Regions from separate parts of the Homo sapiens genome. Here region 1 is linked to region 2. Evidence: fine-mapped expression QTL. A gene starts in region 2. The other region holds a variant in brackets. All regions are shown on one strand. Distances are from middle to middle. Region 1 has its middle 11 kb from the start of ICAM2. Region 2 holds the start of PRR29 (proline rich 29).

What was found. PIP is the estimated chance that this variant, and not a neighbour inherited with it, causes the effect.
Region 1: its variant is the best candidate, but not a certain one, in a credible set for the expression of PRR29 in tibial artery (GTEx, PIP 0.76).

Annotation. Positions count from the first base shown.
Region 1 is chr17:64,029,376-64,034,751 of GRCh38, reverse strand. No RefSeq gene overlaps it. Among named protein-coding and RNA genes, the nearest start is that of ICAM2, 11 kb to the right of the region's middle. The variant A/G (reference allele first, on the strand shown) is at 2,989.
Region 2 is chr17:63,995,163-64,000,538 of GRCh38, reverse strand. It overlaps PRR29 (proline rich 29), which reads right to left and starts at 2,188. Exons shown (of 6, transcript NM_001164257.2): 1 at 2,115-2,188; 2 at 1,757-1,832; 3 at 1,465-1,571. The coding sequence starts at 2,174. PRR29-AS1 (PRR29 antisense RNA 1) reads left to right here and starts at 640. Exons shown (of 3, transcript NR_126169.1): 1 at 640-2,214; 2 at 2,617-2,774; 3 at 3,276-4,468. RefSeq lists an enhancer at 1,025-2,002 and a silencer at 2,256-2,305.

The DNA of each region.
Region 1 (5,376 bases), 34 kb before region 2:
GTGGGAATTGAACAATGAGAACACATGGACACAGGAAGGGGAGCATCACACACACCGGGGACTGTTGTGGGGTGGGGGGAGGGGGAAGGGATAGCATTAGGAGATATAACTAATGCTAAATGATGAGTTAATGGGTGCAGCACACCAACATGGCACATGTATACATATGTAACTAACCTGTACATTGTGCACATGTACCCTAAAACTTAAAGTATAATAATAATAAAATTAAAAAAAAAAAAGAAGTCCAAAACGATAAAAGGTGAAATGCCTCCCTCTCCCCTCCCTGGCCCCTTCTGGTAAATCCACCACCGAAGTAGACTGTCTCCTTTGGATTCTAGGGTATCCTTACAGTCGTTGTTTAAGCAAACATGACTTCATATTCTTTCTCCCACTTTTTTATGCACATACTATGCACACTAGTCTGAATCTTGCTTTTTTTTCTTCTCTTTAGCAATATTTCTTTTTAAAAGTTAAGCTATAAAGCTGAGTACAGTGGCACACACCTGTAGTCCCAGGTACTTGAGAGGATGAGGTAGGAGGTTCACTTGAGCCCAGAAGTTCAAGGCCAGCCTGGGCAACATAGTGAAACCCTGTCTCTTAAAAAAAAAAATGAAAGATTAGGAGGCTGGGCCGGGAGGATAACTTGAGCCCAGGAGTTCAAGACCAGTCTGGACAACATGAAAAAAACCCACCTCTACCAAAAACAAAAACAAAAACAAAAAAAACAGAAATTAGCCAGGCATGGTACACACACCTGTAGTCCCAGCTACTCAGAAGGCTGAGGCGGGAGGATCACTTGAGCCTAGGTAAATTGAGATTGCACCACTATACTCCAGCCTGGGCAACAAAGCCAGACTCTGTCTCCAAAAAAAAAAATGAAAGAAAAATTAAGATATAATTTACATATAGTAAAATGCATAGATCTTAAATGTGCAACTTGGTGATTTTTACATACATTATAAAAACCAGTATAACCACCTCCCAGATCTAGACATGGAGCATTTCCACCTCCCCAGAAGGTCCTCTTTTGCCCCTTTCAGTCCAAACACACCTCTCCATTCCCCAGGGGGTAACCACCCCTCTGGCTTCCATCACCATAGATTAGATCCATCTCCTCTTACTCTTCATAGAAATGGAAGCATGCAATATGTTCTCTTTGTGTCTGACTTCTTTGACTCAATATTGTTTCAGATCATCCCTGTTGTTGGGTATATTAGTTATTTGTTCTTTGTTGTGTAGCATTTCATTGTATGAATACGCCATACTTTACCTGTTGGTGGACATTTGAATTATCAGTTTTAGCTATTATGAATAAGGTGATTATGAACATTCTTGTATATACTTTTTTTTTTTTTTTTTTGGAGACGGAGTCTCGGTCTGTTGCCCAGGCTGGAGTGCAGTGGCTCGATCTCAGCTCACTGCAACCTCCACCTCCTGGGTTCAAGTGATTCTCCTGCCTCAGCCTCCTAAGTAGCTTGGATTACAGGCACATGCCACCATGCCCGGCTAATTTTTTGTAGTTTTAGTAGAGACGGGATTTCACCATGTTGGTCAGGTTGGTCTCGAACCCCTGACCTCATGATCTTCCCACCTTGGCCTCCCAAAGTGCTGGGATTACAGGCATGTGCCACCACACCTGGCCATATATATCTTTTTATTATATACTTTAGCAATATTCTTGAAGATCCTTCCATATCAGCATATAGGTGCTAATATTTTTTCACATCGTCTAGTATCCCTTTGTATGAATATATAATAACTTACTCACCCATCCCTTAGTGATAGAGGTTTAGGTTGTTTTCAGTCTTTAGATATTACAAACGATGGGTCAATACTAGGTCCAGTGGTTCATGCCTGTAATCCTAGTACTTTGGGAGGCTGAGGCAGGTGAATCGCTTGAGCCTAGGAGTTTGAGACCAGTCAGGGCAACATGGCAAAACCTTGTCTTTACAAAAAATAAAAAAAATTAGCCAAGCATGGTGGCAGGTGCCTATAGTCCCAACTACTCTAGAGGCTGAGGTGGGAGGATCACCTGAGCTTGGGAGGTCAAGGCTGTGGTGAGCCATGATCATGCCACTGCACTCCAGCCTGGGTGACAGAGTGAGACCCTGTCATCCCCGTTTCTGCCCCACAAAAAGATTTTACAGACAATGGGGCAATGAATGGTCTGGACCTAATGTCTGTCATTTTGCACATGTTGCAATTCTATCTGCAGGATAAATTTTTAGAAGTGACGTTACAGTTATCTTTTGTTGCAAAGTGATAAATTACTCCAATATGTAGTAAAACAAACAAACAAACAAACAAACAAAACAGCTTGAAATAGCAATCATTTGTTTGCCTACAACTCTGTAGGTGGTTGGGTGGCTCTTTCAGTCAGGGCCAGCTCAGCAGGAGGTGGATGGTCTAGGATGGCCTTGCTCATCTATCTGAGTCGTGACTTGTCTCTGCTCCACGCGGTCACTCATCCTTCCGTGGGCTTGCCTGGGCTTCTTCACAGACCACAGCATTCCAAGAGAGCACAGCCAAAGGCTCAGAGCCTTTGGAGGCCTAGGCTCTGGAACTTGTCAGTGGCATTTCTGATGACTTTGTTGATCTACACAAGTCACAAGCCCAGGCCAGATTCAAGGAGTAGAGAAATAGACTCCATCTCTTGATGGAAAAGAGCTTCAAAGAATTTGTGGTCATTTGCGGTGTATCACACTCACTTTGAAATATGGATTATGTTATAAAACAGTTATTCCAGGTTTTCTTACAGATTTCTAAGGTTTCTTTTCTTTTCTTTCTTTTTTTTTTTTTTTTTACATTTTGGCTTTTGGACCTTTTAGAATCTATCCTGGTATATGGTGTGAAGTATAGGTCTAGCCTTATTTTTTTCTACATAATTTACTGAATAGTCCATGACTTCCCCCATTTATTTTGAGATGTCACCCCTATCACATTATTAAACTATGATGTGTATTTAGGCCTATTCCTGAAATTTAT[A/G]TTCTGTTCTAATTATCCCTGTCTATTCACGCACTGGTCTCATACTATTTTATTATTGAAGGTTTATAAATTCATATTGGGTTTTTAAAAAGAACTCATTTATATGCTGTTTACAAGAAATAGCAAAAGCAAAATACTGTGGTGAAGCAGACAGTGCCAGTTATTCACCCAAGATTCATCCTCCCCTCTTACTAATGGAGACCCTATTTTTTTTAGGGAAGCAACGTGCTCATTTTAAAAGGCTGAACTCCCCAGACTCTCTTGCAGCTGGTGGTGTCCATGGAACCCAGTTCCAGGCACTAAGATGTAAGTGGAATTCTGCTGGGTGCAGCTTCATAGCAAGCTCTCATTTTTCTGCTAAAAAGGACTGTTCCATCTGCATGTCTCTGTGTCCTTTACCCTTGTTACCTTTTCCTGTCTGGAATGCTGTCACCGACATGGAGGTACAGTAGCTCTCTCTCAACCAGGAGGTCTAAGTTATGCCCTAAATACAGAGGAGCATTGGCTGGGCACTGTGGCTCATACCTGTAATCCCAGCACTTTCAGAGGCCGAGGCAGGCAGATCACAAGGTCAGGAGATCAAGGCCATCCTGGCTAACACGGTGAAACCCCATCTCTACTAAAAATACAAAAAGTTAGCTGGGCATGGTGGCAGGTGCCTGTAGTCCCAGCTACTCAGGAGGCTGAGGCAGGAGAATTGCTTGAGCCCAGGAGGTGGAGGTTGCAGTGAGCTGAGATTGCTCCACTGCACTCCAGCCTGGGCAACAGAGCGAGACTCCGCCTAAAAAAAAAAAAAGGCTGGGCGCGGTGGCTCATGCCTGTAATCCCAGCATTTTGGGAGGCCAAGGCGGTCAGATCACGAGGTCAGGAGATCAAGGCCATCCTGGACAACGTGGTGAAACCCCATCTCTACTAAAATACAAAAAATTAGCCGGGCGTGGTGGTGCATGCCTGTAGTCCCAGCTACTCAGGAGGCTGAGGCAGGGGAATCTCTTGAACCCAGGAGGCAGAGGTTGCAATGAGCTGAGATCGCACCACTGCACTCCAGCCTGACAACAGAGCAAGACCCCGTCTCAAAAAAAAAAAAAAAAAAAAAAAAGAAAAGAAAAAAATACAGAGGAGCAAATGGTAGAATGGTAGAAGAAGCCCAGTTGGTTGATGCGTCTTTGATGTTCACCTCTTCTGGACCACAGCCTTCAGACTTCTTGTGTGAGAAAAAAATCTTACTGACGGAGCTGCATTAGTTTGTTTCTACTACATGAAGTGAAACCAATTCCCAATCAATGCACACGGGAAAGCTGAAAATAAAGACATAGGACCTGGGCGCAGTGGCTCACACCTGTAATCCCAGCACTTTGGGAGGCCAAGGTGGGTGGATTGCTTGAGCCCAGGAGTTCAAGATCAGCCTAGGCAACATGGTGAGACTCCCATCTCTACAAAAAAAAAAAATACAAAAATTAGCTGGGCATGGTGGTGTGTGCCTGTAGTCCCAGCTACTCTGGAGGCCGAGGTGGGAGGATTGCTTAAGCCAAGAGGTGGAGGCTGCAGTAAGCCGTGATCGGGCCACTGCACTCCAGCCTGGGTGACAGAGTGAGACCCTGTCTCAAAAAAAAAAAAAAGAAAAAAGAAAACACACACACACACACACACACACACACAAACCATAGAAAGAGAGACGGAAAAGCTCAACACTGTTCAACACTGTAAAGATGTCATATGTGACCTCAATAAAAATCTGAATAGGTTTCTTGTAGAATTGCATAAAGAACAGTAACCAATGACTAGGAGAGCTCTGAAAAAGAATAATATTAGGGCATTATCCTTCCAAATGCTATAATATTATAATTAAGACAGCATGGGCCGGACACGATGGTTCACACCTGTAATCCCAGCACTTTGGGAGGCCAAGGCGGGTGGATTTGCTTGAGCCCAGGAGTTCAAGACCAGCCTGGGCAACACAGGGAGACCTTGTCTCTACAAAAAAATACAAAAATTAGCTGGTGTGGTGGTGTGCACCTGTAGTCCCAGCTGCTTGGGAGGTTGAGGTTGAGGTTACGTGAGCCTGGGGAGGCCTAGGCTGCTGTGAGCCATGATGGTGCCACTGCACTCCAGCCTGGGCAACAGAGTGAGACCCTGTCTCAAAATTTTTTTTTTTTTTAAATAAATACATAGAAAAAGATGTAGCAAACAAATATTAACAAAATGCTGGTTTAGCAATACCAATCAGATTCTATAGAATTCAGACAAGATCAGGCATGTTCAGAGTGCTATGGCTGGCTATAGACAGAATTCAAAAAGAAAAGGATTGAATGGGACAGAAAAAGATATTTCATTTTTATCAAAAAAAATAACTGAATAGAACATATAAGGCACGAATCCTTAGACACC
Region 2 (5,376 bases):
GCTAACATAGTGAAACCCCGTCTCTACTAAAAACACAAAAAAGTAGCCGGGTGTGGTGGCAGGCGCCTGTGGTCCCAGCTACTCGGGAGGCTGGGGCAGGAGAGTTGTTTGAACCCAGGAGGTGGAAGTTGCAGTGTGCCGAGATTGCATCACTATACTCCAGCCTAGGTGACAGAGAGAGACTCCGTCTCAAAAAAAAGAAAAAGAAAAGAAAAGAAAAAAAGAATGGGTTGTGTTTATTGAGCGTTTACTACATGCGGACAACAAATTGTGGAGACATTTACTCCTGTAGCTCAAGGACGTTGAGCAACTTGGCCACCCAGTTGATTCCAGGTGTGACCCCCAGAGCTGGGGCCAGGAGTCCACTGAGCTGTCCCCGGCCTCACCCCCGGCCCCTGGACCCACCTATGTGTCATCACTGAGGACCCAGGGGTGAGGGGTGGCAGTAGCTCCTCAGGGTCTCCTTCTGTCTGGATTCCTTGAACCCCTCTCCGCCTCCTCCGAGCTGAACAACATTCTCTCTCCACCCAGTCCCTGCTTCTCCTGACCTCAGGATGCCCACTATTGGCTGAGTAAGGCTCAGCCTTAGAGCTATATGCACATGCATGCACACACACGCTTGCACACACCCCCACTTGCACACACTTGCTTGCACGCACACACTTGCTTGCACGCACACACTTGCCTTCACAACCCGCTCGCACACACGTGCACGCACACCCTTGCACACGCACGTGAACACACACTTGCACACACATATGCATGTACACAGCCTTGCACACACACACGCATGCACACAGACACCCACTTGCACACACATACACACACACACTCTTGCACACACACACTGCCGCACACGGTTTCCCCCATTCTGTCTCCTGACTCTGCCCCTGCCAGCCTGGATGGGGGACACACCCTTCGCCTCCTCCAAGGGTCAAAATCCTACCTGGCTTTCAAGGGCTGGTTCTAAGATCCTCTGCTCCTCCAAGGAGCCTGTCCCCATCCCCCAACCCTATGTGCACTTGTGCTTTGTACCTCTCCATGTGCCATCACAGCCAACCTGGCTTTGTATCCCTAACCATTCATTTATTCATTCACTCGTTCAACAAATATCAGCTGAGCCCCTACACGGTGTCAGGCACCAGGCCAGACGCTCATGATGCATGGGGCAGGGTTACCAGGGTGCCTACCTTCCTGGAGCCTTAAGTCCAGTGGGGGAGGCACTACAGGGAAACCTCCTTGAAAACAAGACCTCGGTGGTCTGGACTTTGGGGGGTCTCTTCCCCGCCCCAACCTTTCATGGAGGCTGAAACATGACAGATGCCAAACAGCCCCAGCCAGAGAGACGGGCTGGCTTCCTGCTCCTCTGTCTCCCAGTTCTTTTCCCCCCTGAACAGGAACCCCAGGTGGATCCGCATCCCTGGACCCACAGGTGAGCGACCCCGGCGGCCCACCCACACGCACCTGAGGGCAGGGCGAGGCAGGCCGGGGCTGCAGCGCTCCAGCCACCAGGCGACTCAGCAGCAGCTGGTGCATCTGCGCGTTCTGCAGCATCATCAGTTCCAGCAGGTCTAGGAAGCGGGGTTCAGCAAGCCCACGCCGGGCCTCCGAGTCCCCCTCCCCCTGACACCCCTGTCCCGGGGGTGAAGAATGGGTTGGCGGGTTGTGCTGCGGGGACTCCCAGAGGATGTGCGAGGCAGAAGAGGGTGAGTGGTGGTGATGGTGGGGGTGGGGTGGGGGGACCCGGGAGTCTCACCTTCCTTCACGCGGCCTGGCTGCGGGGGCGCAGGTGGGACGGCCCACGAGAGGGGCTGCAGGAAGGTGACCCAGGGCTGGGGGTGTGCGCGGAGTCAGCCAGGTGGGGTGGGGGGAATGGATGGGGACACGTCGCGAGCCCCAACCCCCCCGGCCAGTGGCCTCCCTAACCCCGCAGGGGCCAGGTTCTCTCCTCCCCGCCCCGCGGCCTCCCTGCTCCCTGCCACGCCTCTTCCTCTCGGTTTGGGGCTGTCTCTCCTCGTCCCCCACCCCTCCAGGATCTGGCCCCTCCAGGGACAGCTCCCCACTCTGCCGTCTCCCAAGCTAAGGCAGGATCTGCTCCCGGGCTCAGCCCTCACCGTCGGGACTGCGCTCTGCGGTGGGGAGCGACCCCAGCTTCCGCCCGCCCCAGAGGCCATGGCTGGCGCCGGTTGCCTTGGCGACGCCGAGGACGCCAAGGTCTCTTCCCACGCATGCGCGGAGCCCGCCCGTGCTCCTGGGTCTTCCATCTCCCTGCTCCCTCCTGTCTCCTCCTCCGCGGACTTGGGGTCCCCAGGAGCCCTCCCCCGCCACCAGGAGGCCAGTCTCCTCCCCGGCATGTCCACCTCCCGCCGCGCTGCTCGGGGCTCCCCTCCCCTCCCCTTGCTGGTTCCCAGAACTGGGCCTGGGTTAGTGCGGGGAAGGGGGGTGTGTTTGTTGAGTGAATAAGCGAGTGACTGGGGAGGCTTGGTTTCGGGGTCCCAGAGCCCGATTGACTCAGCTGAAAAGTTCAGGAGAAACAGAGACTTTTGCAGGAGCAGGCTGGGGGCTAGGGCAGACGAGTGAGGAGGACAAAGGGTCTGTTCCCTGTCACTCTGACAGAGAGAGGGGCTTCCTGCCAGGAAAGAGTGGTTTCTGGAGCAGACCAAGGAAGGAAACACCGCCCGAATTCACGGAAGAGGCTGAGGACTCTGGCTGGAAACACGTGGCCGGCTTCTCGCCTCTCTCCTTGCGGCTATTTGCCCTGTTTCCTGGCCAAGGTGAGCCACTGCTCCTCAGACGAGGAAAATCGTGGTGACTTCAGCACCCGCGTCCCCAGTACTGTCTCCCGTACTGGAAAAGTTACCAAAGCACGCGTTCTTTTGACAGGAAGTTAGCAAGGTCTTCCTTGCTTAAGAACAGGTGAAGGGGGAGATCTATTTCTGCAGCTGTGACCATCCTAAGATAGGCCCCCGGCAGCAGTCAAGGAAAATCCAGACAGGAAGCTGGGCTTAGCACCCCGAGTAGCCCTTCCCCCACTCTCCATGTCAGCTCCCCTTCCTGCCAGTCCTGGAGTAAGAACCAGAAAGACCATTCCCACCTCCTCCTTTGCTCCGTAGTACCTGTCTCTAGGGGAGCAGGCTTGTGGGCATTACTTTACTGTCCCCATGGGTCTTATGGCTTCAACAGCCATTAACAAGCTGAGATCCAGGCACTGGGGTCACAGCCCCCCAGTGAGTAGAACACAGAGATGCCTCTCTCCATCTCCATTCTCATTCCAGGTAGAAAGAGAACAAGCCATTTTGCTCATCATCAACAAACCTTGACCAAGGAAGTGTCTGCGTGTGCAATGTGCCATCTGAACCCTGGAGGCATAAGCAGTATGGTCACTTGTCCCAGCATTGTTGGGAAGTGAAAATGTATCCATGGAAAGAGAGCAGAAAGATAAGACTACGCCCCGGGGATAATGAAAAAGAGAGGACTTGACCGCTGAGGGATGGAGTTCCAAGGAAGTCAGTCCTTGATGGGGCCAAGCAGCAGGGGAAGACGGGCGCTATCAGGCTGGGGACAGAGCCCAAGCCAAGACCCAGGTGTATGAATGGACAGGACCTGAGATGACCCGGTGGGTCAAACTGTCTGACTGTAGAAGAGGAGCTGGGCAGAGAGCAGAGGTCCAGGGACAGGCCAAGGTTTGGAATGCCAAGGTTTGGAATTTAGGCTTGGCCCTGTGGGTAATGGAGAGCTATCAGTGGGTTTCAAGCAAAAGGGAGATACCAAGTGCTGTGGCCAGCCATGTTTCAGGAAGATTGTTCTTGTCCACCTTTGTTTATGTCAACCACATTTAGAAGTAACAAATGTCTGATAGGGGGTCAGGTGCGGTGGCTTGTGCCTATAGTGCCAGCTACTCAGGAGGCTGAGGCAGGAGGATCGCTCAAGCCCAGGGATTCAAGGATGCTGTGAGCTACGATCACGTCACTGCACTCCAGCCTGGGAAACAGGGTGAGACCCAGTTTCTAAAACAAACGAACAAACAAATGTCTGATGGGGATGCATCCTCCCAATAGAATACTATTCAACCATGGATAATGTGGGAATAGAATATCTCTGTTGATGTGAAAAGTTGTCCAAGACAGTTGAGTCAAAAATATCAGTAAGCATAGTAAGATCTTATTTTTGTTTTAAAAATCATATGCATAAGTCCAGGCACGGTGGCTCACGCCTGTAATCCCAGCAGTTTGGGAGGCCAAGGCAGGCAGATCACTTGAGGTCAGGAGTTCGGGACCAGCCTGGCCAACATGGTGAAACCCTGTCTCTACTAAAAATACAAAAATTAGCCGGGAGTGGTGGCGGGTGCCTGCAATCCCAGACACTCAGGAGGCTGAGGCAGGAGAATCGCTTGAACCTGGGAGGTGGAGGTTGCAGTGAGCCGAGATCATGCCACTGCACTTCAGCCTGGGCAACAGAGACTCCATCTAAAAAAAAAAAAAATTCATATGCATATACATGTGTGTATGTACATGTGTGTGTGTGTGAATACACATACACACACACACACAGATCCAACTGTGGAGCAGCTGTCAGAGTTGGCCGACCCGCAGCCTCCCCTAGAGTCTTCTGCAGAGGGTTCCTGCCCTCACCTACAGCCCCTCCACCTGAGGACACCTGGCCACAGGTAAGACAGGCCAGAAGGTGGCACAGGAGCAGCCCACAAGCAATAATGGATGGGAGTTGATAGCTAAACTCGCAGCCTCCTGGTCTCAGTGCGACAACTCTGAGGTGTCTCCCACAGAGCCTCTCAGTGATGCCTGTGGGCTTGTGCCCAGGTGGCCCACAGTGACCTGCTCAGAAACACACACTTTACTGCCTTTTCTCCTCTCCCTGTCCCTTCTCCACTCTCTCGTAGTGCTCATTTGGATCTCCTTCCAAAGAAACGACTGCTCCCCAAGCCTGTGTCAGGGTCTGCTTTTGGGGGATCCCAACGAAGACATCAGCCTCCTACTCGCTCCACATCTGCCTCCAGGCTACTGAAAACTCCTGGAAAAGGGACTTAAGTAGCTCTATGATACATCTGCATTCAGAGATGTGAAATACTGAAATAGACATTGAAGAAAATGAGTTTGGGTGTACAATGGTCAATAGATTCAACTGAAGCAAGGCTGGAGGCAGGGGGCCCAGCAAAGAGGCTGCCACACTTGTCCCTCTAAGGAAGCCTGCAGTGGGCTAGAGGTGGCCGTAGAAAACAGTCAGGAGGAGGTGATCATTCCAATCCCTCAGAGGTAAAAGGGCATGTTAACCGCTTGTGTTTTGAAAAACAAGGCTGAGATCAAAACTATCTGACTTATGGTATTCCATTCGATGTATTTGTCAAAAGAAACGGAAGCA